Regions from separate parts of the Homo sapiens genome. Here region 2 is linked to region 1. Evidence: fine-mapped expression QTL. A gene starts in region 1. The other region holds a variant in brackets. All regions are shown on one strand. Distances are between the middles of the regions. Region 1 holds the start of FMNL3 (formin like 3). Region 2 overlaps PRPF40B (pre-mRNA processing factor 40B).

What was found. PIP is the estimated chance that this variant, and not a neighbour inherited with it, causes the effect. A credible set is the group of variants that fine-mapping cannot tell apart.
Region 2: its variant is the best candidate, but not a certain one, in a credible set for the expression of FMNL3 in whole blood (TOPMed, PIP 0.61).

Annotation. Positions count from the first base shown.
Region 1 is chr12:49,706,153-49,709,056 of GRCh38, forward strand. FMNL3 (formin like 3) reads right to left here and starts at 1,253. Exons shown (of 26, transcript NM_175736.5): 1 at 903-1,253. The coding sequence starts at 1,028. LOC124902929 (a long non-coding RNA gene) reads left to right here and starts at 1,574. Exons shown (of 3, transcript XR_007063299.1): 1 at 1,574-1,687. It also overlaps the pseudogene COX5BP5. RefSeq lists a silencer at 897-1,666 and an enhancer at 1,687-1,836.
Region 2 is chr12:49,639,002-49,641,905 of GRCh38, forward strand. The region is part of intron 18 of PRPF40B (pre-mRNA processing factor 40B); the gene reads left to right. FMNL3 (formin like 3) reads right to left here. Exons shown (of 26, transcript NM_175736.5): 26 at 1-2,904. Among named protein-coding and RNA genes, the nearest start is that of PRPF40B, 17 kb to the left of the region's middle. The variant C/T (reference allele first, on the strand shown) is at 1,750.

The sequences.
Region 1 (2,904 bases):
TTCTGGCTCCTTCCCGGTGATACCAGCTCAGAACCTCTCGCTTCATAGAGCCACTGACATCAATGTCCAATTCCCACACCAAAGAAGAATCCCAAAGTCAGCTCTAAAAACCCATTTATACAGACCGTTTGAAACCCACAGAAAGACTAAAAAGCACAGGCTAAACAACACAAACCAGTCACTATGGCTTAACGTGAAAAGGGGGGGAGGAGGCGGGATGGTTTGTGTATTGTTTCACTTGGAGAAATACCCCAGTGAAATGGTTTATCCACATGTTCAGCCTTTCAGGCAAATCCACTCTAACTTAGCAGGATGCCTGCAGGCCGTTCTGAAAATAAGCAGAATGGCATACTCTTTATTCCACCCCCTTCAGGAGCTGCCAGCCGCCTCCCCATCCCCCTCTCCCCCCAAACATCTGGTCTGGGCTGGGAGTGGGACCCACTCCCTGGGAAGCCTCCATGTTCGCAGGAGAGGCGGTGTCCCCACTCAGGGAAGCCTGCTGAGGAGCGAGCCGGCCGCGCTTCTGAATTCCCCCCACCCGCGAGAGGCTCCGGGCTGAGAATGCTAGGGACGGGGAGCCTGGCGAAGAAGCGGGGAAACGGGAAAAGGGCAGCAGAAGGGGGAGGAAGAAGGAGGGAGAAGCCTGGTTCCTAGGACGGTCCCGAACTGGGGACTTCTCCTAAGGGTCCAGCGGTGGAGGCGTCGGTCCCGAGATCCCCGACGGGGCTGTCCGGGCCGGCCAGCGGCTGCTCAGAGGTTCCTGGGAAGACACTGGAGGCCGGGATCCGTTCGGGACCCCGACTGAAAGGGTGGGCGGGACGGGGGCCCAGCACAAAGTCCCAGCCCGGGCGTCGGGACCTGAGGGGCGGTACGCGGGGGAAGGGGCTGGGCTCAGCTCTCACCAGCACCAGGGCGAACCTTTCCTCCAGCTCACAGGGCTCAGGCATCGGCATCTTGCCGGGCGGCAGCAACAACGGGACAGAGGGGGGCTCTCCCGGGACCCCCTCGGCGCTCTCCAGGTTGCCCATCGCGGCGGGGCCCCCTCAGGGGCCTCGGCCCCCCACCTCCACGCTCCGGAGCTTTCGGCTCCGCGGCTCCGACCAGGCTCCTCCCTCAGCGCCGGCTCCCCGAGTCCCGACTCCTCGGCCCCGTCGAGGGCGCCGGGGGTTCCCTGGAGTCCCGCTGGCGGGGGCGCGCGGCGAGGGCGGAGGCAGCGTAGCGGACAGCCGCACCGAAGCAAGGCGGACGGAGGCGGCCGGCTCTTGCTCACACCCGCCGCCTCGCCGCGCTCGGCGCGCCGCCCGGGCGCTGCCCCTCCCCGCCCCCCGCGCTCTTTCCCTTCCCCCGCCAACCTCGCTTCCTCCCACCCACACCCGGCCGAGACTCGGGCTTCCCCCGCGAGCGCCGACTGCAGCCCGCGCGACGCGCGCCCCATTCATGCAGGCCCCGCCTCCCGCCCAGAGGCCTCACAGGCGGCCCGGCCCGCCCCACCTGCGCCCGATTGACGGCCGCGTCTGCCAATCACAGCGCCTCCCGCCCTTGACGGCCTCGTGCCGGGCGCCGAGCGCTCCCTGGCGGCCTCAGCCGGCATCGAATCACCGCGGTTCCCAGAGGGCGTGAGGGGCTGGCGTGGACACACCGGGAATGGACCGTACCCTTTTTCAAAAGGAACTCATGATGTATACAAGTAAGTAAAATATTATACAAGGCATGGCGTACAAAACTAACTACAAGAGAAGTAGAAACAAGCAGGATACTCAGAAGAGGGAGAGAGATAGTACCTGTTAAGAGTCGGGGTGAGGGAGATCATAGTTGGACCAGGCATTGAGGGATGAGGAAGCCCTTACCCGACAGAGGCAGGGGAAAAAACGTTTGGGAGGAGAGAAGCTTAACCATCTGGCTGCGTGTGAAAATGGAGAGGCGGGAGAAGAACGCTGTTCTGGGCTCAGTCGGCGGCTGGGTCGTTGACATTTGCGGTGGAAATTTGTTGTCTAGCCGCCATCTTCTTCCAGTGAGAGCACCCCCTTTTCTTTTAGGAAACCACCTCTCCCCTCTTCTCAGTCTAAATGGAGCTGAATTTTATCCCCAGTTCCAAAGGACCGCATGACCCAGGCCCAGTCAGTCACAACATTTTCCTCCTCTACCCATGGACACTGTTTTAGGGATTGTCACTTGACCCAAGCCCAGACAATATGATATATCCAAGGCTTTCTCTGAAACAATCAGGAAAGAGGCACTCACTCTCTCTCCATTTAGGCTGCAAAATTATTAGAATGTAAACCTGCAGCCGCTGGTGGCCGTCTTATCATCACCTGTAACACATCAAGCCTGCTTGAGAATGAAGCCAGCGCAGAGGAGAGAAAAGCTATGAGACAGGACAAAATTCTAATGACATGCCAAGAACCTGGATCTAACCATGCCTGAAGTTATCACCTAGATTTTTAATTCATTTATTCAACAAATATTTATTTTAGAAAGTTTATTCTATGCCAGATACTATTCTGGGCATTGAAGGTACATCTGCGAACAAACAGGATATACATTGTGTCCTCTTGGAATTCACAATCTGTGTAGAAGGAAAGGTAGACAATAAACTAGACGAGTAAAATGTATAGATGTTAGTGATCAGTGTTAATAAAAATAAAACTGAAAGGTGATAGAGATGGAAGAGGCATTAAGATTTTAAATAGAGTTGCTTACTTGGGAGGCTGAGGCAGGAGGATCAATTGAAACTAGGAGGTTGAGGCTGTAGTGAGCCATGTTCATGGCACTCCACTCTAGCCTGGGTGACAGGGTGAGGCTCTGTCTCAATAAATAAATAAACACAGCTGTTGCTTGTCACAGGCATGATGGCTTCAAGGTTAATTTTCAGAGCTGGAGCGCTAGCCGCATAGGCCTGAGGGC
Region 2 (2,904 bases), 67 kb before region 1:
CCATTAGGTAAGATGTATCATACTGTCCTGAGGTATCCTCTCTTTCTCTGGAACCACATGCCCCAGCTTGGAAGTAGAGCCCTGCATGTAAAGTGCCTTGAATGCTAAAATAAGAAATTTGGATTTTTCTCTCGTAAGTAATGAGGAACCGGGGAATGATCAGATTAGATGGTGTATAGTAGAACCTTTCAGTCTAGAGTACGTACTTATGTCCTTAGGGAAGGTGGTGGTGCTAGGTAGAGCAGTTCTTGAAGCCTCAAGATACTAAAACTGATAGTGGTAATTCAAATAGTCATATTCATTTCACTTATCCCCAGACCTCTCTCCTACTGTTGGGGCTACTTGGTACAAAAGTCCAAGAAGCACTAGATGCTAGGAGCTGGGTTAGAGGGATGGAAGAGGGTGAGCAGGGAGAAAAGTCAGTAGGCTGTGCAGGAATCTTGTAGGAGGTGATCCTAGCCGGGGGCAGTGGGGACAGCAGAAGAGAGCAGGCTGTAGCGCTCCAGCTGTTCTTCTGAGACACTCTGGGTTTCTATGTAGGTGCCTTGAGACAAGCAAGGGTTGGAGTTGAGTATGGGGGGATTTGGTGCTGCTTCCTGTTTTCAAGTGAAGCAGCTTGAATCTTTTTTATGCATAAAGGTTCTACATAAGATTTCTATTTTAATAAACTGTTTCTGCTGTTTAAAAAAAAAAGGGAGAATTCAACACCAGTGGGATAGAGTCACTAAGTAGAATTGATAGATTTTGTGAAATGGAGGGAAAGGAAGGAATCAGAGGTGTCAGGGCAGTGGATGATGGCACTATTGATAAGGATAAAACAAGAAGAGCAAGGCTGTAGAAAATAGGAATTCTATTTGGGGAATTACTCTCAAAGCAAATATATTTTAAAACAGAATAATCGTATAAAGTAGAAATGCCTTATCCTGGGATAGCTAAATTTTATTGGACAATTAACTTTTAGCCACAGAGTGGCTGGTTGATAGGCCTGTAGGGGCCTATCCTCACTGAGTCCTGTCTCTCCACACAACCTGAGAAAGCAACTTTTTTAGACAGTTCCCTTCCTCTTTCCCCATTTGGGTTCCTGCCTATGGAGGGCAGATGAGCCCAGGAGTCCCTCTTGCTTTCCACAGCCAGGCAGACCATGATGGTGCCTTTCATCCCATAGGATAATGCAAAGAGCCCTGGACTTAGAACAGGCAGACAGATCCGGGTCAGGGAGATCCATGGAGGATGCTCATGAGAAATATATTCTCTTGAGATCTGTTGAATTTTAAGTGTCTGAAATATCCAGTCTAGGATGTTTGAAAATCAGGAGAGATGAAGGATGAGATTGCGAGGGAGTACAGATTGGGTAGTGAAAGAGGACTAAGTGCTGTTCTCAGGAACATGCATATGCAAGAGAATAAAAGGTCAGAGAGGGTGTGACCTGGAGAGGGGAGTGTTGAAGAAGTAAGTGGTAGAGGCACTGAGGACCAGATGAGTGAGGACAAAGAAGGCGGCCTTGGATTTGGCTAGTAGACACAAGCAACCTTTGGGAGAGTAGAGTCATGGAGGTGGCATGGGGGCAGCACATGTTTTAGAGTCAGATTACTCCTGGTTGCTTATTGGCTCTGAGACCTCCGTAAGTTCCGTGTCTCTGAGCCTGTTTGCTCACCTGTAAATCAGGGATAATTCATAGGTAAGGTTGTGAGAATTAAATAACATCTGTAAAGTGTCTAATAGGTTCTCAATAAATGTTTATTCCTTTTC[C/T]TTTCTGCTGCATTTCAAGAGGTTTTGAAACAATGGAAAAGAGCAGAGGTAGTTAGCTTGATGAAGGGGAGAGCATGGTGGAAAGGATGTTCCAGGTTAGGTGAGGTGTCTGCTTGATGGAAGGAGCCAGTAACAAGGGTGACTTGGAGCTTTCAATTCCCTGAGAATGAATGCTGTGTTGATAAGGACTGTAGCAGGGTTGAGGAAGTACCCTTGGAAAGAAGAAAGAGGAGCACACCTCTGCCATCAGCAAAAAGGCCAGAGGAGGTGAGAGCTATGTGGAGGGAGAGAAAGGGAATCTGGCCTGTGCTTAACTGACGTGAGAGCCAGACTTTGAACTCCAGTGGCTTCATTTACCACTCATGTCATCTTGGGCCAACTGAGATCACTTTTCTAAGCCTCTGCTTCACTGGAATGTTGTGAGGCCTAAATGAGAAGCATAGAGCCTGGCCTGTGGACATGTTTTTAGTATTGGTGGGGAGCTGCACACCTGGTGGCCTCCGTTTCTCCCATGGACTAAGTCATCTGGGTGGGTGTGGTGCTTGAAAGCAGACACTTTGGGGATAGAGAGCCCCCCCAGGGTAGGGTTCTTGCCCAGCCGTATATCAGCTGTGAGACCTTGGGCAAGTGCTCTAGTTTCTCTGAACCTTGGTTTCTCCTTCTGTGTAAAATTAGGATACTAGGACCTATTCTTAAATGTAGAACCAAGAGGATTAAATGAGATAATGTGTGAAACACTCATCATGGTACCTGGTACATAGTAAGCACTCAATAAATAGACCCAAAGGGTAGGGGCCAGCAAATGTTGATTGAGAATGCATGGAAGCACTGCTGAGCAGCAGGAGGGCCCAGCTGGGGCCAGAGCTTTAAGCCAAAGGAACAAAAGTTAATTTTGAGAAACTCAGCATTAATCAGCAGTTGGGAGACATCTCCCAACCCCTTCAGCTCTGTGTGACATCCAAACCAAGGGTAGGCATGGGGGCTTAATTGTCAAGTGATGAGGACTTGGATAACTTGGTTTCTAATGCAGACCACAGTCCTGTGGATCTCTTCCAGAGGCAAGGGCCTTCTTGACCATCTGTAATGTGACCACTCTGCCTGCCAGCTTTGGCCTCAGGCACGTGGTGCCCCTGCTTCATGCACTGCTGTACCCAC